3 linked regions of the Homo sapiens genome follow. The protein of the gene in region 2 interacts with the protein of the main gene of each other region in a biochemical or structural test. Each region holds a gene or a part of one and is shown on either strand. Other genes may lie near its edges.

Region 1 (6,839 bases), on a different chromosome or scaffold from region 2:
TGAACTTCAAGGTGTGAAAGAATCCAGCCCGGGGGCTGGCACATAGGAGGCACGCAATAAATTTGCATTCTCCTCACTATGAGAGATACACAGGATAGGACACAAGCCCCTCTCTGGAAGTTTTGTCATCTGATCAAGAAAATAGAATCTAGGACAGGCATGGTAGCTCACACCTGTAATCCCAGCACTTTGGGAGTCCAAAGTGGGATAGCTGCTTGAGGCCAGCAGTGCAAAACTAGCATGAGCAACATGCAAGACCCCATCTCTATGAAAAATAAAAAATTAGCTGGAGGTGGTGGTGTGCACCTGTAGTCCTAGCTACTTAGGAGGCTGAGGCAGGAGACTGGCATGGGCCTGGGAGCTCGAGGCTGCAATGAGCTATGTTTGTGCCACTGCACTCCAGCCTGGGCAACAGAGTAAGACCATGTCTCAAAAAAAAAAAAAAAAAAAAAAAAGAAGAGGAAAAAGAAAAAAAGAAAGAAGAAAGAAATGAAGGACAGGAAGGAAGGCCAAAGAGAAAGAAAAGGAAGGAAGGGAGGGAGAAAGAGAGGAAGGAAATAGAAAATAGAATCTAAAATATTAACAGTCCCAACTTTTTTTCCAGGAAGGGGCTATTTCATCCTCATTTAGGAACTGTTTGGCAAAGGTTTTAAGGTCACCCAAAGATGAGACCTAAAGAGTTCACTGCTTCAAAGAAGCCCTCCTCCAGCCAACTTGAGGCCAAAGTGGTTTGGAGTCAGAAAGTGAAGTATCAGATACACAGAGCTAATCACTTCAGGATTAACTTGATTATTTAATCAGGAGAAATACAGGGCAGCTGGAATCTCACTATAACGCCACTGCACAGCAAATCCAATTGCCTCATAACTTGGTTCTTTCCAGATTCCAAAACTCCCTTCATGGCAGGGACTGGAGTTCACACATTGGTTTCTTTTTTTTCTGAGATGGAGTCCTGCTCTTGTCACCCAGGCTGGAGTAGCCTGGCCCACACATTAGTTTCTAAACCCTTACTGAAAACAATCTGATAATTAAGTTAGTCAGGTTTAGGAATCCATCTTTCATATAAACATCAAATTAGGTTAGGCCCTTAGCTCTTGTATTGTGAAACTTCAGCCAAAAAGAACCCACAAACATTTACTGAGCATCTACCACTTGCCAAGTACTGTGTTAGAAGCTAGAGGAAAGAGAATGGATGAATAAGACCCTGTCTCTGACCTAAAGAGGTCCATCTCTCTGGACCAGTCAGATAGTCACAATAAAGCAATGTCAATCAGATTAAAATCCTACCCTTGGAATCAAAAGACCTAAATTTAAGTTTCAAGCTGACTAGCTGTATGGCCTTTCCTCCAAATCTCAATTTTCTGATTTGCAATGTGGTGGTAACTGTCATTTTATTTACTTCAAAAAATTATTGTGGGCCAGGCGCAGTGGCTCACGCCTGTAATCCCAGCACTTTGGGAGGCTGAGACAGAGGGATCACCTGAAGTCAGGAGTTGGAGACCAGCCTGGCCAACATGGCAAAACCCCATCTCTACTAAAAATACAAAAATTAGCCAGGCGTGGTGGCAGGTACCTGTAATCCCAGCTACTCCGGAGGCTGAGGCAGGAAAATCACTTGAACGCGGGAGGCAGAGGTTGCAGTGAGCCAAGATCGTGCCATTGCACTCCAGCCTGGGCAACAGAGCGAGACTCCGTCTCAAAAAAAAAAAGAAAAAGAAAAAGAAAAGAAAAGGAGAGGAAAGAAAGGAAAAAAAATTATTGTTAAGAAAAAAATAAAATCAAGATGAAAATGTGGCTGGGCGCAGTGGCTCACGCCTTTACATCCCAACGCTTCGGAGAGCCGAGGCGGGGAGATCACCCGACGTCAGGAGCTGGAGACCAGCCTGGCCAACATGGTGAAACCCTGTGTCTACTAAAATACAAAAAAGTTAGCTGGGCGTGGTAATCCCAGCTACTCGGGAGGCTGAAGCAGGAGAATCACTTGAACCCGGGAGGCAGGGGCTGCAGTGAGCCCAGATCCCGCCACTGCACTCCAGCCTGGGCGACACAGCAAGACTCCATCTCGAAAAAATAAAAAATAAAAATAAATGCAAATGTGTTGTGTAAACCGTAAAGCACAGTTCAGAAAAAAGCGCCATTTATAAAAATAGTTGTAATATAAAAAGGAAGCGTCTGTAAAGCAAGGAGTGGAGTGGTTCAGTAAATGGATGTCTGCACTTGCTGTTCCTTCCATCTCCCGCTAGATATCTGCATGACTCCCCTCATCTCCTCCTAGGCTCTGCTCAAATGTCACCTTATTTAAGATAGGAGATCCCCCTTTCTCCAGCATTCCATGTCCTCTCTCCCCTACCTTACTCTAAAGCATTGCTCACCATCTGTTACACCGCCTGATTTACATGTTTGCTGTCTAGTCGTACTAAAATGGTATCTCCACGAGGGGATGGACTTTCATCTGTTCGACTCACTGCCTGGAGCATCGCAGGTGTTCAATAAATATTTTTCGAGTAAAGTAATGAAGTCAAGATTCATTCTGAGTCATAAGAGGGACTTGGGAGAAAAGGAGCGGAGCAGCCGTTATCCCGAGCCCGAATCCTGCCCCTCGCTCCTCCATCTACTGGCTGGATGACACCCTTCAGAGGCTGTTTCCTTTTTTGGACAGTTTCCGACGGTGGGGCGGCCAAGGTGAATCATGGGCTCCCCAGCACCTGGGACAGAGATGACCCGGCTGAGGCCAGGCCGGCTCCAGCACTGACCTTGAGCTCTTGGGAGACCCGGGCCTTCTGCCGGTACACGGAGTACAGGGCGGCGGTGACCACAGAGGTGGTGCCCAGGAGGATGAACTGGCACAGCGAGGGCCGCCCTCCGCTCTCCATGACGGCGGCGAGCCCCGGTGGCCGACTGTGGCGCCAAGGATAGGCCTGGTGACCCCCGACTCTCCACCTCCTTCCGACCAGGACCGCACCCCCCCGGCCTAACCTGACCGGAAACTCGAAATCAGTCGCCCAGCGATGACGCACGACGCCGGAACCGGAAGCGGGGCAAGGGGTTGTAGAGGGAACCGGAAGGTGGGGTTGCCCGGGTGACAATCAAGCTGCTGCGGCCTCCAGGGAGGTCCTGTCTCCCCAGCCGGGTGTCGGAGAGCGATTGGGGAGCTGAGCGACCACCCACCGCTCCATGGCCGTCCCCTTCGAAACACGGCGCACTGGCCATGACTGACTCGCCCATCGCCCTGGTTTCCGTCCCTCTGGTTTCCTGGGGTTACTGGGCTGTTTGATGGGTTATTCCATGTCTTCGCCATTAGATTGGCAGGAAATAAAATAATTGTGTATTAAACTCTTATGAGTAATATACGTTTAAGTTTCAGAGCAAACTCTCAAGACTTGGAATTTATTCTGGCCACTTTACAGATGAGAAAAGTGAGGCCATAGAGGTTAGGGAATGATGTGCTCGAAGTCTAGTGAGTGCTAGAGAGGAATTCACCCAACTCCAAAGCCCTCAACTCTACCCCAGGAGGGCAGATTATATCACCAAAGTAGCCCCTTAATCTGCCATCACCACATAGAACAACATATTTATTAAATAATAATTACGGCTACGCTTAGTGCCTATTATGTGTCAGGTTCGAGGCGGGGGAGGTTTTGCAGGCACCATCCCACTGAACCTTCACAACACAGCTATAATGCAGATTACCGATAAAGAAACTGAGGCTCAGGTAAGTAACTTGCTCAAGGTTATACAGCTAAAAGCAATAGGTATGGCCATAAAACCCAGGGGATCCTTCTCAGAGACTGTTCCCTGATCTCTGTAATGCATCTCCTTTCTAAAATAATCGGAGATAACCCAAATCTTTCTTCTAAACATCAGCATTCATTGAGCTATCTCCTACAGGTTATGCTTTAATTTTTTTATTTGTTTGAGACAGGGTCTTGCTCTGTCGCCCAGGCTGGAGTGCAGTGGTGCAATCATAGCTCCCTGCAGCCTCCCACCCCGCAATCCTCCCACCTCAGCCTCCCCAGTAGTTAGGACTAAAGATGCATGCCACCCCCGGCTAATTTTTTAAAAAATTTTTTGTAGAGTCAAGGTCTCACTATGTTGGCCATGCTGGTCTGGAACTCCTGGGCTCAAGTGATCCTCCTGACTTGCCTTCCCAAAGTGCTGGGATTACAGGCGTGAGTCACCACACCAAGCCTAAATTCTTGTATTTTCATGTTTACATGTATAAGTATTTATGTAGGGAGAATTTCTAGAGGTAGAATTGCTAGGTCAATGGGTGTTGGCACCATTAATCTTGATCAACATTGTCTAATTTTTCTCCATAATGTCCAATTTTACATTTATGAGCAATATGTGGGAATTTCTTTTCTTTTTTTCTGGAGACAGAGTCTCGCTCTGTAGCCCAGGCTGGAGTGCAGTGGCGTGATCTCGGCTCAGTGCAACTTCCGCCTCCCAAGTTAAGTGATTCTCGTGCCTCAGCCTCCCAAGTAGCTGGGACTACAGGCGTGCACCACCACGCCTAGCTAATTTTTGTATTTTTGGTAGAGACAAGGTTTCACCATATTGGCCAGACTGGTCTTGAACTCCTGACCTCAAGTGATTCGCCCGCCTTGGCCTCCCAAAGTATTGGGATTACAGGAGTAAGCCACTGCGCCTGGCCGGGAATCTCTTTTCACCCACACTTTTGCTAACAAACTTTTTGACAAGTTCTATTAAAAATTTAAGGTTAGACCTCATTTTAAGTTTGTGTGTGTGTGTGTTTACCAAATTCATGATCATCCCTTGGGTTGAAAATCATCAAAGATATCTCACAGTGTTAACAATCTAATGATTCTAGCCCTATTCTTATAGAAAGTAATTCTTATTTGACCCCAATTGTATTTAAGGAATGGAGTTAAAAACTGTTATATATAACAGGCTGATTTAATAAAGAAATTTTACTTTTGTGGAGCAGTCTACAGTTTTTAGATACATCATCTGTAGTTTTTAGACACATCTTACCTAGTGGCCTGATTCAATGTATGTAAAACGTGTCCCTCCAGGCCCAACATTGTTTTTAATAACAAAATAATGAAAGTAAACTAAATGTTATCAATAGTCAGTTGGTTGAGTAAATTTTTTAAATATGTGTATGTGTGCATAGTCAGGTGAAACAGCAAACTGCAAAACTAAAGAGGAACCCCGTTTATTTTTAAAAGGAGAGAGAAGAGTATACTATATATATTGCATGTCTCCAGAAGGATTCACAAAAAGCTGATAATAATTGGTTCTTTCCATAGAAGGGAATGGGGTGGCTAGAGAACAGAGAAGGTGACTTTTCACTCTGTTGTATCTTTTGAGTGTGAATGTACAGCATATTTTGAATTAATAAAACTAGAATTTAAAAAAAAAATGGCCAGGCGAGGTGGCTCACGCCTGTAATCCCAGCACTGTAGGAGGCCGAAGCAGGTGGATCACCTGAGGTCAGGAGTTCGAGACCAGCCTGGCCAACATGGTGGAATCCCGTCTCTACTAAAAATACAAAAAATTAGCTGGGCATGGCCAAGCGCTGTGGCTCACGCCTGTAATCCCAGCACTTTGGGAGGCGGAGGCGGGCAGATTGCCTGAAGTCGGGAGGTCGGGAGTTCGAGACCAGTCTGACCAACATAGACAAACCCCGTCTCTACTAAAAATACAAAATTAGCCAGGCTTGGTGGCACATGCCTATAATCCGAGCTACTTGGGAGGCTGAGGCAGGAGAATCACTTGAACCCAGGAGGCGCAGGTTGCAGTGAGCTGAGATAGCGCCATTGCACTCCAGCCTGGGCAACAGAGTGAGACTCCATCTCAAAAAAAAAAAAAAAAAAAAAAAGAGCATGCTATTTACTTCACAACCAACAATTACAGAGAGCCTCCTACATCCAAGGTTCTAGGCTGGGCATTAGGAGATACACCTTATATAGCCAGCCTCTTCCCTCTGACTGGTTAGGGTCTTGTGGGGAGGTAGACATGGACAGTTACAGATTGCCCCAGGTCCAGTGAAATTAGGACAACCAAGTGCCACAGTAGGGAGATGCTGTTTATTTCCACCAGGGAAGGAATTTGAGTTCTGTTAACAGAATGGAGGGTGGAGTGGCTGGGATGGAAGTAGGAAAGGCCTTCCATGAAGAGGGGGGAAGAAACAGCAAAGGTACAAAGCTACCAAGAGTTGGCCCAGTATAGCTAGAGCCCAGGATGTGCGACAGAGAGCAAGGAGCAAGTAATTGAAAAGGAGGGTTGAGGCCAGATCCTGTAGGTCCCTAAATGCCAAACCAAAACTTTAAACTTCATCATTTTGGGGATGGTATCCATTCCAGTAAAGCTTTTTGAGGATCAGCAAGGGTGCAACCTAACCTGTTTTTTAAAAAATATATATAATCAAAATTCTTGTATCCTTAGGTTACAGCAAGGAAGAGAACAAAAACGGGTCCTTAAAATAAAACAGGCAGAGTGCTGCACTGCAATAAGTTAGGGGTCCTTGCTTACAGGTTCTGACTATTTTAGGCCTCCTTGTTTTATTCTCTGGGCCCTTTTATGAGTTCCCTGGGAGCTCATTAAAGCCATCACTCTTAAATGACACAGTTTGGTTTTAAATAACCCTTCCATTTTTTTTGCCAAAGGCTGAAATCCTTCATTAGCTATGCTGAGCACAGTCCTACTGGGACAGTCTGAAATTTACATCATGTGGACCTTGTTAGGAGCAATGAGAGATGGGCAATTTCAGCTGCAGCCAGATGTCCCTAGGGAACCATTCCCAGCCTGGAAGGCTGTCCTCACTGAATCACAAGTTAAAGATGAGCCTCTGACTTCAAGAAAGGGAGGTAAAT
Region 2 (7,097 bases):
ATGCACACATGTGCATAAAACAAGGTCTAGAAACATAGAAACCAAATGCTATAGCAGTTCTCTCTAGCTGGTAGGATAATGGGTGATTGTGTGTTTTTAACTATTTGAAGTAAAATGTTCTCAATATATCAGGTTATATAGCAGCTTTTAAAAGATCTATAATATAATCCCAATTAAAAACAAAATGGGCTGGGAGTAGTGGCTCACACCTGTAATCCCAGCACTTTGGGAGGCTGAGGCCTGAGGATCACCTGAGGTCAAGAGTTTGAGACCAGCCTGTCCAATATGATGAAACCCTGTCTCTAACTAAAAATACAAAAATTAGCCGGGTGTGGTGGTGGATGCCTGTAATCCCAGCTATTAGGGAGGCTGAGACAGGAGAATTGCTTGAACCTGGGAGGCAGAGGTTGCAGTGAGCCGAGATCGTGGCATTGCACTAATCCCTGGGCAACAAGAGCGAAACTCCGTTTCAAAAAACAAACAAAACAAAATGAACTCAGCTATGTTCAGGAAAAAAAAAAAGACTAGGCTGGGCGCGGTGGCTCACGCCTGTAATCCCAGCACTTTGGGAGGCCAAGGCGGGCGGATCGTGAGGTCAGGAGTTCAGGAGTTCAAGAACAGCCTGGCCAACATGGTAAACCCCGTCTCTACTAAAAATACAAAAATTAGTTGGGCATGGTAGCGCATGCCTGTAATCCCAGCTGCTCGGAAGGCTGAGGCATAATTGCTTGAACTGGGACCCAGGAGGCGGAGGTAGCAGTGAGCGAGATCTTGCCACTGCACTCCAGCCTGGGCTACAGAGCGAGACTGTTTCTCAGAAAAAAAAAAAAAAAGACTGTGTTAGAAATAAAATGCCCTGAAAGTAATAGTAGTTATATCCCTGGGGTTATATGAAAGTGAGGATTTTTTTTTTTTTTTTTTTTTTTTGAGACGGAGTCTCGCTCTGTTGCCCAGGCTGGAGTGCAGTGGCGGGATCTCGGCTCACTGCAAGCTCCGCCTCCCGGGTTCACGCCATTCTCCTGCCTCAGCCTCCCAAGTAGCTGGGACTACAGGCGCCCGCCACTACGCCCGGCTAATTTTTTGTAGTTTTTAGTAGAGACGGGGTTTCACCGTTTTAGCCAGGATGGTCTCGATCTCCTGACCTCGTGATCCGCCCGCCTCGGCCTCCCAAACTGCTGGGATTACAGGCGTGAGCCACCGCGCCCGGCCGAAAGTGAGGATATATTTTTTCCCTGTTCTTTGAATGTTTCTGTATTCTATAATAAACCTGCATTAATTGTATAATCTGAACAAAACCAAAACTTACATGAAACAAAAAGTTGAGTCTGGCTGGTACAGGATGGAGTAGGGTGACATGTGGGAGGGAAGAGATAGAGATGGGTATGGGAGATAAAGTTTGAACTTGACCTTCTGGTCAAGAAGGGTCTTGAGAAAGGACTTATAACCTAGCAGGGGCTCCCTAAGAAGTTGTCCAAGGTGGGTCCAAGTTTCCCTGGTTGGGCCAGAACCCAAGGATGGCTCACTGATGCGGGTACCTTCACTTCCAGATGCCAGGGGATTCAGGGTTGGTCAGTGCCAGCCAAGCCTTGGCAAGGGATGAAAAGACTTCCTGGGTGCTCTTAAAGTAAAAGTGAGACCTCTCCCTGCCTTACTTCCCAGAGCCTTTTCACTTGTTTTCATAGAGTATATTCACATTTTGCCTTCACTTAGTTACCTGGGTATATCATTCCTATTCCAGATTTGCTGCTTCTTAGGAGCTGGGTAAGCTGGGCACCCCTGGGGACTTACAAAATGGGAGACACCACATTCAGCCTGTGCTGGGAGAGTAAAGAAGTTAACTGGATGGATTTCAGAGCCAGCCAAACTTGAGTTTTTTTTTTTTTTTTTTGAGATAGTCTCGTTCTGTCACCGAGGCTGGAGTACAGTGGTGCCATCTCGGCTCACTGCAACCTCCGCCTCCCGGGTTCAAGCGATTCTCCTGCCTCAGCCTCCGGAGAGTAGCTGGGATTACAGGTGTCCACCACCACGCCCGGCTAATTTTTGTATTTGTAGTAAAGACAGGGTTTCTCCATGTTGGCCAGGCTGGTCTGGAATTCCTGACCTCAGGTGATCTGCCCACCTCGGCCTCCCAAAGTGCTGGGATTACAGGCGTGAGCCACCGCACCTGGCCCAAACTTGAGTTCTAATCCCAGCTCTACTCATTAAAGCTGTGCCCTTAGGCATGTCATACCACCTCCCTAAACCTCAGTTTTCCAATCTGCAAAATGGAAATGCAATCTATCTCAAAGGATTTTGTGAAGATAAACTGAGATACTATTTATCTGGCACTTAATACCCTTATCTGACACGGTGTTCAATAAATGGCATTTGCCATCAAATCTCTGTTTCCTAAACGGAGCTCAATGTCTAATTAGAAGCACAGGAATAGGGATTTCACTGAACCTCTGTGAAAATCCTAGCTCTGCTATTTATCAAATGTGTGACCTTGGTCAAGTTACTTAAAGTCTCCTAAATTCCTTTTTCTCATTTATAAAACAGCAACATTCCAATCTATCTCCCACAAGGGTGACGCAAGCATCAAAAGTGATAAACGAGGTCAAAGTGGGCGGATCACCTGAGGTCAAGAATTCAAAACCAGCCTGGCCAACATGGCAAAACCCCGTCTCTACTAAAAATACAAAAATAAGGGGCCGGGCACGGTGGCTCACGCCTGTAATCCCAACACTTTGGGAGGCCGAGGTGAGAGGATCATGAGGTCAGGAGATCGAGACCATCTTGGCTAACTAACACGGTGAAACCCCGTCTCTACTAAAAATACAAAAAAATTAGCCGGGCGTGGTGGCGGGCGCCTGTAGTCCCAGCTACTCAGGAGGATGAGGTGGGAGAATGACATGAACCCAGGAGGCGGAGCCTGCAGTGAGCCAACATCATGCCAGTGCACTCCAGCCTGGGTAACAGAGCGAGACTCCGTCTCAAAAAAAATAATAATAATAAAAATACAAACACAAAAATAGGCTGAAGGCCAGACACAGTGGCTCACGCCTGTTATCCCAGTACTTTGGGGGCTGAGGCGGGCGAATCACCTGAGGTCAGGAGTTCTAGACCAGCCTGTCCAACATGGTAAAACCCCATCCCTACTAAAATACAAAAAATTAGCGGAGCATGGTGGTGGGTGCTTATAGTCCTAGCTACTCAGGAGGCTGAGGCAGGAGAATGGCGTGAACCAGGGAGGCAGAGCTTACAGTGAGCCGAGATTGCACCACTGCACTCCAGCCTGGGTGACAGAGCACGACTCCATCTCAAAAAAAAAACAAAAAGAAAAGAAAATTAGCTGGGCATGGTTGTACACACCTGTAGTCCCAGCTACCCAGGAGGCTGAGGCATGAGAATTGCCTGAACCCAGGCAGAGGTTAAAGTGAGCTGAGATTGCACCACCACACTCCAGCCTGGGCAACAGAGCAAGACTATGTCTCAAAAAAAAAAATTAGCCAGGCGTGATGGTGTGAGCCTGCAGTCCCAGCTATTTGGGAGGCTGAGGCAGGAGAATCGCTTGAACCTGGGAGACAGAAGTTGCAATGAGCCAACATCGCACCACTACACTCCAGCCTGGGTGGCAGAGTGAGACTCATCTCAAAAAAAAAAAAAAAAGCCGGGCACAGTGGCTCACGCCTGTAATCCGAACACTTTGGGAGGCCAAGGTGGGCAGATCACCTGAGATGAGGAGTTCGAGAGCATCCTGACCAATATGGCAAAACCCTATCTCTACTAAAAATACAAAAATTAGCCGGGTGTGGTGGTGGGCGCCTGTAATCCCAGCTACTCAGGAGGCTGAGGCAGGAGAACTGCTCGAACCCGTGAGGCAGAGGTTTGCAGTGAGCTGAGATCGTGCCACTGCACTCTAGCCTGGGTGACAGAGACTCCATCTCAAAAAAAAAAAGTGATAAATGCACAGGGAGGAAGTCTATAAACGTTAGACCTTATGGAGATGTTAGGAACATGCATCAGCACGCTCCCAGCTACCCAAGGACTCAAGCAGCCTCCGACCTGGAGAGGAGAACAAGGCTGCCTACACAACATGACAACCAGGCATGTCCAGACCAGTTCCCCTGGTTGGGCCAGAATCCCAGGAGGCCTCACTTGATGCAGGTGCCTTCACTTGCAGGTGCCAGGTGATTCAGGGTTGGTCAGTGGCAGCCAAGCCTTGACAAGGGATGAAAAGACAGGGTCTGCTCTCTGGTTCCTAGTTTTCTGTGGTTGCAATACCTGTATACACACAGACAGCCATCCCTCTCCCAGGTACATCTGGTTGCATGAACCAGCATCTCCCAAGAGGGCCCAGGTTGTTTTAATGCAGCTCCACCAGAGCCTCAGCTCTGGGGAAAGCTGCAGCTATTCCCAGGCCTGCCTGGGATCATGGGGGTTAAGGGCAAGGGTGGGGACAACACCGGATATTAAGTCAGAGTCAGAGGCTGTATCTTGGGACTGGCACTAACTGTGGCCCCTCATTACCTATCATCCCCTCCTGAGAAAGAAAGGGCAGGGCACAAAGGGATGCCCAATACAAACATGGAAAGTGCAGGGGAGCTTGCTCCTGGGCAAATGATCTCTGAGCCTCATTGTTAGAATAGGCCCAATGATACCTCACAGAGCTGCTGGGACAAATAATGGAGACAATGTAGCAGAAAGAGCCTGACAACCAGTAAGAGTTCAGTACACTCCCTCTCCTCCCCTGGACACACCAGTGCACAACTTCCAGAAACTCACCATCTTCTGCAGTGTTGAGTTTGAGGCTCTTGCCTTTGAAACTCAGCTGTCCCCCGGCCACCTGAGTCTTGGCAAGTGTCTCTGCCAGCTTGGCAATGTCTTCCGAGGCCATGTTGACTAGGCTGGTGGGCTCCCCTGGAGATCTGCAGACTGAGGAGGCCAAAGTTGCAGTAAGAAAAAGGAGTCTCCTGGGGCCCCTGGTTGGGGGCAGGGTAGGACATCAGCCATCTCAGGAGTCTGACCCTACCTCCCCTGCTATGGAGACCCTAGAGATAAATCACTGGAAGAAAGGAAAACAGCATCAGAGAAGGAACAGTTCTAGAAGGTGCAGGAGGTAGTAAAAGAACAGAAAAATCATGTCTTAGCCTATAAGAAGCTACCATCTCATTACAAGTCCTCCTCTGCTAAACTGCCGCAGCTGGACACCCAGCAACACCATGTGAGCTGCCCATTTCCTGGGCCCCTTCAGTGAATGGCAGTCAAGTCCCAAACCAAAGGCTGCAGAGTCTGGCCCAAGCACACACCTGCTTGAGCATCTTGGCTGTTCTCTGTTTGAGGGTCCCATTCCTCAAACAGGACACAGATGGCTATGGGATCCAGATCATTCATCCCAGAGAATGCCCCACCACCCACGCTGGCATGACTCTGGGGTGGGGCACAGGGGTCAGCCCCACTGCACGTCTGGTTTCAACCGTGGCCGGGAGACTGGGCAGGCCACAATGGCCCCTCAGGGGTTTCTAGATCAGAGATCGCCACATCACAACAGCTACCATCATAATAGGACAGGGACAGGGCTGCTACCTATGAAGCCCTACTATACTCAAGTCTACCAGAAGATTTGGGTAGAAATGGGGTTGATAAGCCTCACTATTTATAAAATCAGGAGTGCTGGTAAAAGAAGTAAAGCTGGCCAGGTACAGTGGCTCACACCTGTAATCCCAGCACATTGGGAAGCTGTGATGGGAAGATCGCTTGAGCCCAGCAGCTCAAGACCAGTCTGGGCAACATGGCAAAATCCCATCTCTACTAAAAATAAATACAATTAGCAGGGTATGGTGGTGTGCACCAGTAATCCCAGCCACTGGGGAGGCTGAGGTGGGAGGATTGATTGAGCCCCGGAGACAGAGGCTACAGTGAGCCATGATCTCACCACTGCACTCTAGCCTGGGTGACAGAGTAAAACCCTGTCTCAAAAAAATAAAAATAAAAATAAAAATTAGCTGGGTGTGGTGGCACGTGCCTGTAGTCAGTCCCAGCTACTGGAGAGGCTGAGGCAGGAGGATCATTTGAGCCCAGGAGTTCAAAGCTGCAGTAAGCTATGACTGCCACTGCACTCCAGCCTGGGCAACAGCGGGAGGCTCTATCTCTAAAAGTAACTAAATAAATGAAAGAATTTTTTTTTTTTGAGACGGAGTCTCGCTCAGTCGCCCAGGCTGGAGCACAGTGGCGCCATCTGGGCTCACTGCAAGCTCCGCCTCCAAGGTTCATGTCATTCTCCTGCCTCAGCCTCCTGAGTAGCTGGGATTACAGGCACCCACCACCATGTCCAGCTAATTTTTTTGTATTTTTAGTAGAGACAGGGTTTCACCGTGTGTTAGCCAGGATGGTCTCGATCTCCTGACCTCGTGATCCACTCGCCTCAGCCTCCCAAAGTGCTGGGATTACACGCATGAGCCACCACGCTTGGCCAATAAATGAAAATTTTTAAAACAAGTAAAGCTTTGAGAACTCCTGCGCCTGCTCATGGTACTCCAGCTTTACTTGGAGTACATGTGAGATTAAATGTCTCAATGTGTACTGCCTATAAATTGAAGCCAGCTATATTAGACAGGAACGTGGAACATCACTACATACCTGAATAGTGTTTACTTTGTGGTATGAATAAACGTATCTGTGAGATGCTCCAAAAAAAGAAAAGAAACAGCAAGTAATCAGGAGAGACCAAGGAAGCAGATATGAGGGGCAGAACTAGGGGGTGCTATCCGAAAGGCCTCCTCCTACAACCTCCTCATTCTCAGATACAGTTGTGATACCCTGAATCCTCCCACCCCTAGGCTTCCTCTGGGTTCTAACTTATAACCCTGGTTTGTCTGCCTTTATCAATAAGCATGAATTATTATCCTGGGTAAGGTGTCCACTCATTCATTCAAAAACACATTGATTACTACTGTGTGCTGGATGTTGTTCCAGGTCAGCAGTATAGCAGTAAAGGAAGCATAAACCCTGACCTCTTGAAGCATATGTTCTAAATGACACATTTAGTATGTGATTTAAAAAAAAAAGGGGGGGGTTGGGGGGCCGGGAGTGGTGGTTCACGGCTGTAATCTCAGCAC
Region 3 (7,358 bases), on a different chromosome or scaffold from region 2:
TGATACCTATATTTATAAACCCAGCAAATTTGTGAACAGAGGGTAGTGACTGGCAACAGGACCGGTTTTCATAGCAGACTCATTTGTCAACAAATTAAATAAAACTTGTAGTAGAGGCAGCTACTATTTAAAGCAAACTATATTGACCAGAATTTGAAAGCCTAACTTTTTAGAGTCTATGTACAATTTGAAACAAATATGCCAGCATTATACTGAGAAAAACCCCAGATCCATTGTGCCACTATTTGACAGGAACAAAAGAACCAGTGAACCATATATTCCATACATTCCTATTGTTTTCAACTACCAACATTAATACTTCACCAGTTGGGAAAAATACTACTTATTAAAAGCTGCTAACAAATTATTATTTGTAAATGATCTAATTTACACCACATTTAACTTATTTTGTTATCTGAACAAAAATATAAACACTGTCCTAGTACAAATTACATATGTGGCAAGCTTGTTTTGAGTGCAGTCCTATGGTGCAGAACCACATTTAACAGAGTAAAAATTACAAGAGACCGGAGCTCAGTGTAAGCAAAAAATAATTAAGAGCATTTTAATTGTGGGTTCACAATGATAGGAAAATCAAATACAGGAGACCTTTAGGGCAGAGGAGAATTACCACTTAGCAGAAATGTTGTAAAATAATTCTAGGCATAAGTCTTTCCCAAATCCAAGAATCCATGATTCTATGACACCCATCTCCTGGGAATCGATGGCTCACAATTCACTTTAAAATCTAATTACGCTATTCTGGTTCGGCTATATAAACTTCACAAACCTTTCAAGCCAAGGAATAATTTCAAAAATAAAACTGCTTTTTAAAGAAAGTATCGGCGAATCTTAATTTCCTATTCCTGAAGAAATAACCATAAGACAGAAATTTCTCAACTGCAGCACTACAAATATCTTTGACCAAATAATTGTTTGTGAAGGCTGTTCTATGCACTGACGATGTTTAGCAGCGTCACTGACCTTTACCCTCTAGATCCAACAGCCAAAAGTTTCCTGACTTGCCAAATGTCCCCTGGTAAGCAAAATCACCCCTTCTGGTGAGAACTACTGATGCTAACTTTTTTCTTTCTTTTTAGGCACAGACAACTTATTACCTTTGGCTGGTTCTATTTATAATCTACTTACAAAAGAGAACTATGTAGGAGTCAAACTTACGCTTTTCAGGCTTTGTACCTGCAGATGTTGGTCCAGACACTTACTTGTAAAATTAGTTTCTTCTAAGAATTAAATGAGATAAAGCATGTAAAAAGTTTAGCACCTGACAAATTAAAGTTACTATTTGGTGCTAATTTTATACTTCATTCTGCGTAGAGAAGCAGTACACGTCGTATCATTCTGCGGTACTCTCAAATGGGAAACTAGTAGGCTATGTACCTTGAATAAACTGTTTTTGATGAAAATTTCCATCTACCTGAGGGAACCTAGAAAACTTTTTCAAATCAAACGGTTTTCTCTTTGTCTCTCTCAATTATAAAATATAAAGAGTCTCCAAATCTGCTCTCCTGATTCCATCACCCAACATTTCAGCGGGAAAAACCAGATAGGTTGGTGGTTGAAATCCCGAATATATAGAATCCCCCAAAAGAAAATTCATTTAATACCAGAGGTTTATTTGTCCATATGAGGGACATAAAAAAAATACCAGAGGTGGGCTCCCCAGTTCTTCTTCCAAATACAATTCACTTTGACTTACATACAAAATCCCGGGGGGGATTTTACAACTTAATTTGACCCTAAGTAACTGCTCTTCCTCCCTTCAAAAACAATCTGCTCCTCCTTCCCATATCTCACTTAAATGTGGGCGTCTCCATCCTTCCAAACACACAGACTAGAAAGTCTTGAGTTGTTCCCTATTCTTTATTTCCCTCTTCGCACAGTAAGTCACCAAATTCTGTGGACAGTTCTTTGGAAAGGTCTCAAATCTCTACCTCTTTCCCTTCCATATCACTGTCAAAATGATGCCTCTACAAGTCTGAGCCTGTCAATGCTTAGTTTAAAATTCTCTATTTACTCTAGCCTGATTACAGCAAACTCCGTCCAAACAGCCCAATATAACCTAAAGGTAGTATTATGACCTAAAGCTCATTGTACTGTGAAACCAACCTAGCTTTCCAGTTCTGTCTTCCTCAACTCTACTTCACCCCCAGCATCTTTCTTCTAACATCCCCTTTTCATACTTCTGTGAACCACTTATACTCCAGAAGCCTTAATGTGAATTATTAGCCCAGCATGAACCCAGTTAGATAGCACAATGAACGTGTCAAGGTGGCCCTGGGAATCGCAAAAAGTATTCAATTAAACTTAATTCACACTCCTGTGTGCAAAATGGAGAAACCCAGGGAAACAGCTGTTCGAAGAGGGGGCCTTAAACCCACCCATTTGAGCTCGCCCTCCGAGAGCGAGTAGGCTCGGCACGTGAACTGTCAAAAGCGAGGCCACAACCGACCTGGAAGCCGAGGAACAGGGTCAGCTTTCTGCACCCAGCCCTGTCAGGTACCAAACCCAACTGTCTTGAATCAGAGACGAACAGGACCAAAGGAGGTGAGTTTCAACACCCAAACTAAGAAGCCGAAGGAGGCGCAGGGTCCGTTAACCCTGCCCATCTCCACGCTCCTTGGAAAACGAAAACAAACTCTGGTTTCTCTTCAGCGTTCACCTCTCTGCGCCCAAACGGATCTGTAAGTCCAACTCTATACCTTAATCATCAACCTTTCCCACTTGAACCCCGTCCCAGCCCAGCCCATCCTTTCAGCGCGCCGACTACCCCATAGGTCATCCCAGCTCTGTCTCTTTTCCCAATTTCGAGAGCGGAAAGAAACCCCTCCCTCTTCTCCCTTACCTGCCGCGGGCACTCCCCTTCTTGGTACCGGGTCGATCGGAACTCCTGTTCCAGCTTGATCTCCACCCTAGTTGCAACGTTCAACCCACGTTCCCCTCGGACTGCTCCTCCCCCACTCGCGTCTCCACTAGGAAGGCGGCTTCCGGCTTGAGTCCGCGGCAAAAGAGTCCTCCTTCCTGCTGCACGCTGGGCCTGAAAGGACGGTGGCGTGGCGGGGAAGGTGAAGACGTGAGCACTTCCGGTCGCCCTCCGCAGAGGCGTGGCTGTCCGCCCTGTGGCCGCAGACGCAGTTGCGACTGCGGCGACGAGGAGGGGCGGGGCCGGTGGCTGCTGAGCCCGCCATGTGTGAGTGGCTGGGTTTGGGGAGGCGACGTTTCTGGAAGCTGCTGGAAAGCGCCCGAGTGGCGGAGGTGGCGCCAGCGGCCAGGGGGTGGGGCGTGATTAAAACTAGTGCGCGGCTTTCTGCGGAGGGATTACGCTGACGAAAGAGACCTGCTTGCGCGTCGCTGTTCCGTGGTCCGCGCGAGCGTGGTCGGGAGCCGCTGGTTCCTGGGGTGACCCGCGGAGGTGGGAGAGGGAAGGGCTTCCGAAGCCGGCGGGGGTGCCATGGACCCTCTCCGCCGGCGCGGCCTTCACAGCTGGGCCGCGCCGGGCATCCGTAGTCCGCTCTCCCAAAGCCTCGGTGGAGCTGAAGCTGCCACAGAGTGCATGTTCACAAAGGGTCATCACACACGGAGCTGCCCCTCCCTGTCTCCCTAGAGCCCATCTTCGAGGCCAGGGGCTTTTCTACCAGGATTCTGGGGTGTTTCTCCTCCTTTCCTCCCTCCCAGATCTTCTCACGGTAAGGGGAGCAGCGAAAGCGCAGGGACTTTGCATTCCACGACCCGTTCTGACTAGTCAACAGCCGATCTGTCCCTGCTGCTCTAATTCCAGCTGCCCTGCCTTGTTTTAACTTCAGAGAAAGGGGGAGTTCTCATTTGATAAGTTTAAGCCTTTGCTTTCGTAGGAAGGTCATGTGGCTTAAGGGACATCGTGACCGCGTATGCTATTTCTGCCTGTGCATTCTAAATCTTGGGGGCAGCATATTCCAGAAGTCCTTTTGGTCGATTGGTTCTGTGTCCTAGGATAACAATTTGTAGTTTCTGACCATTTCTTTACAGAAAAACCACAATTGGTATTTTGGACTGCGGGGTTTTTTAGTGGTCTCAAACTAAATGATTATATTCTGGAATAATGCTGACAATTTGGATAGGGTGGTGTGGAGGAAACAAGTCTCGTGTAGAAGAAATTATTTAGTAAAAAGGATTTTAGTTTTTGGTACTTCTGAATGCAAATGGCCAAGGAATCCAGCAGTTTGTTGGGGTTTCTCCAGACAAAAATAGGCTGGTTAGTTTGTTTACCTTTTTCTGTTGCTTTACTAGATTGTTAATGTATTTGTATATTTAAGATCTAGCTAGTTAGGTTTTTCTTTTTTATGAATTGTGATTAAAATTGGAGAAAGTAGTACTTCCTCCTGAAATAGACAAAACTCAGAGGGTTGTTTTCTTGTTCACCACTGCTACTTCCATTTTTAGAATGGAATACACTATTTGTAAAAAACAAACTTGCTGAGTATTAACTCATAAATTGAACAAAACAATTGGTTCAGTTAAAATGTAGCTAAAATTGTAAGACTGCAAAACAACATCACCAAACTGAATTGTATTTTTTAAAACGTTGTCTGCAAAGTTGAATTTTAGTCTTTCAGTGTAAATTTGGTATTTTTTCAGAAGAAAAATTAGTAACAGAAACAAAATGGAGGCGGGGCTTGAGTTGTAAAGAGAAAGGAAGGGATTTTAGTGTGTTCTGTGTTTTCGCTCTAGAGCTTTTTCCTCTTGTAAAAGGTAGTACAAGACTTATAAAGGGAAGAACTTTGGTACAGGAGATCAGCAGAGATTGACTAGAAAACCCCTTTCGTTTATATTATAGAGTAACGGTCCCAAGTTGAGAATACTGTATACATTTCTGGTTATTCCTATATATTTGAAATGCTTTTTTCTACATATCCTGGTCCCAGAGAGAGTGCAGTACCTTCCAGTGGGATTAAAGCTAATTGCGTCCATCGCTTGTCAGCAGTGTGGGACAGAAATTTTATTGACCTATTTCCAGTTATAAACTCACATGATTTAAAGGGAGGAAGCTTTTATTAAATTAATAACTAACGAACAGCTGCAGTAGTTCAGTGCTTCTGTATGATTAGGATTTTCTCTTTTTTTCTCTCATTTTAGCCACTCACGATGTCAGCTCGTGCACCTTCTACTAAGTTAGATTCCTTAACCACAATACAAGTCTTTGGCCCAAACCTGGGATATAAAAGCTACTTGCTATGATTTCTTTTTTAGTCTCATAAAAAAAAAATGAGAGTTGAAGTGACTGACTGCTTTCTAGAAGCACTCTATGAGTACAGTCTGTAATCCCACATCTCAATCTAACATTCAGAAAGCGGTGAAAACCAAAAACTTCTTAAGCTTGGCAACAAAATTCATTTGGTAGCAAAATATGACCTGAACTATTGAGAAGCTGTATATAGTCTTTATCCCATGTGTTTTGCTGAAACTATATTAATATGTTTGATTATGGGGTGCTGCCCTTGGCCCCTGGTATGTGTTATATAATGGTTTATATACCCTGTAACACTTAAAAATTGTATGAAATTCTTATTTCTAAAACACATCCAACCCTTGGGTTTTAGTTAAGGAATTGTAAACCTGTATTCATATTTTTGGCAACACGCTTGTGCTATGCATGTGTATATTTAAAAAAGTAACTTAAGACATTTTAGTTATTTCAGTAAATTCAGATGTGTTAGGATAGAAAAAAATACGTGTATCATATTGTGTGTCTGTCATATCATGCATCTATCATATTGTATACATGCAATGATAGAGGTATGCACAGCATATTTTTAAGTGTAGCCGTATAGTGATCCAAACAAGAAATTAGTAGTTTCAGGGCTTAAGGTTAATTTATACATTAGACTCTAAAATTTAGATAAAACATGACAACTCGGCCGGGCGTGGTGGCTCACACCTGTAATCCCAGCACTTTGGGAGGCTGAGGTGGGTGGATCACGAGGTCAGGAGTTCAAGACCAGCCTGGCCAAGATGGTGAAACCCCGTCTCTACTAAAAAAAAAAAAAAAAAATACAAAAATTAACCGGGCGCGGTGGGAGGCGCCTGTAAACCCAGCTACTCGGGAGGCTAAGGCAGGGAGAATTGCTTGAACCCCGGGGGTCAGAGATTGCAATGAGCTGAGATTACACCACTGCACTCCAGCCTGAGCGACAGAGCAAGACTCCATCTCAAAAAAACAAAAACAAAAACATGACAACTCGTAATGTAGCCCAAACTTACTTGGTTCTGTTTTGCCCCCAGAAAATGAGAAGATGGTGTGATAATAGTCTAAAGTTGATACTGGAATATCTGACATCTAATCCCATCTCTTCTGCTGTGTGACCTTACACAAGTCACTGAATTTTTAATAGTCTAAACTTGATATTGGAATATCTAGCATCTAATCCCATCTCTTCTGCTGTGTGACCTTATGCAAGTCACTGAATTTTTAAGGTCTCAGTTTACAGATCTATAAAATGAGAAGTTTGGAATAGATGGATCTCTTAAGGAGAGTTCCTTATAGTTTCAACATTCCATGTGCAGGTATTTGCTCTTAGAAGTACCACCTGCTTTAAAAAGTTTTTCCTACTAAGGGTGTAATCCCATTTCATCTCAAACTGCTGTCTTGCTGATCTAAACTTGTCATTTTGTTCATAGGTAACACATTCATTCACGTGGTTCAAAATTCAAAAGGTACAAAAGGATACTCAGTCATTTTCTGCCTAGGAAGCAACCAGTGCTACCAGTTTCTGGTATATTTTTCAGAAAAATTTTACACATGTAAGAACAAATAAATTACTATATATATTTTATTTTTCTTCCCTTTTTCTATGTAAATGGTACATACTATGCATAGTGATTATGTACCTTATTTGTTCACTTACCTTAAAAGTTGTTCTGTTATTATTTAAGGTATTTCCTTATTTTTATGGCTGCATAATCTTCCATTTTATAATGTACCATTATTTCATCTACCCTATCCTTTTGAACATTTAGGTGTTTTTTTTTTCCAGATCTTTATTAAAGAGCATTGTGCAATGAAGACCTTTCTACGTACATCATTCTCCACATATGTGAATATATTTGTGCCCTAGCCAATGGTACGGCTGGGTCCTGTCTACTTTGACTTATGTGTTCTCCATGCCAGTATTGTATAGTGGAGTCAACACCCTGTTGACTCTAAAGTAAGCATATGAGATAAATCACATCACCTGAATGGCTGTTTTTTCATGTGAGCCCTGAGAGCATGTATGTACATACATAATATGCATAAGTATGTATATATGAAGCAAGTAGATTATGTGTAGAGACTTTGTCCTAAACAAACAAACAAATAAATCTTT

What was found. Proteins that work in one complex are often made in the same cells at the same time.
Region 1: of the proteins of RANGAP1 (region 2) and MUL1, one has a biochemical effect on the other in vitro, tested with the Homo sapiens proteins (one study listed by BioGRID).
Region 3: of the proteins of RANGAP1 (region 2) and USPL1, one has a biochemical effect on the other in vitro, tested with the Homo sapiens proteins (2 studies listed by BioGRID).

The regions. Positions count from the first base shown.
Region 1 is NC_000001.11:20,505,152-20,511,990, forward strand, and holds the start of MUL1 (mitochondrial ubiquitin ligase activator of NFKB 1), read right to left. Parts: upstream 3,001-6,839; 5' UTR 2,874-3,000; coding exon 2,754-2,873; exon of another isoform or gene 2,376-2,753; coding exon of another isoform or gene 2,373-2,375; intron 1-2,372. UniProt on the Homo sapiens protein: Exhibits weak E3 ubiquitin-protein ligase activity. E3 ubiquitin ligases accept ubiquitin from an E2 ubiquitin-conjugating enzyme in the form of a thioester and then directly transfer the ubiquitin to targeted substrates.
Region 2 is NC_000022.11:41,276,169-41,283,265, forward strand, and holds part of RANGAP1 (ran GTPase-activating protein 1), read right to left. Parts: exon of another isoform or gene 6,619-7,097; intron 5,476-6,618; exon of another isoform or gene 5,374-5,475; coding exon of another isoform or gene 5,289-5,373; intron 5,045-5,288; exon of another isoform or gene 4,915-5,044; coding exon of another isoform or gene 4,877-4,914; coding exon 4,765-4,876; intron 1,850-4,764; exon of another isoform or gene 1,728-1,849; coding exon of another isoform or gene 1,715-1,727; intron 1-1,714. UniProt on the Homo sapiens protein: GTPase activator for RAN. Converts cytoplasmic GTP-bound RAN to GDP-bound RAN, which is essential for RAN-mediated nuclear import and export. Mediates dissociation of cargo from nuclear export complexes containing XPO1, RAN and RANBP2 after nuclear export.
Region 3 is NC_000013.11:30,613,562-30,620,919, reverse strand, and holds the start of USPL1 (SUMO-specific isopeptidase USPL1), read right to left. Parts: upstream 3,001-7,358; 5' UTR 2,864-3,000; exon of another isoform or gene 1,180-2,863; intron 1-1,179. UniProt on the Homo sapiens protein: SUMO-specific isopeptidase involved in protein desumoylation. Specifically binds SUMO proteins with a higher affinity for SUMO2 and SUMO3 which it cleaves more efficiently. Also able to process full-length SUMO proteins to their mature forms.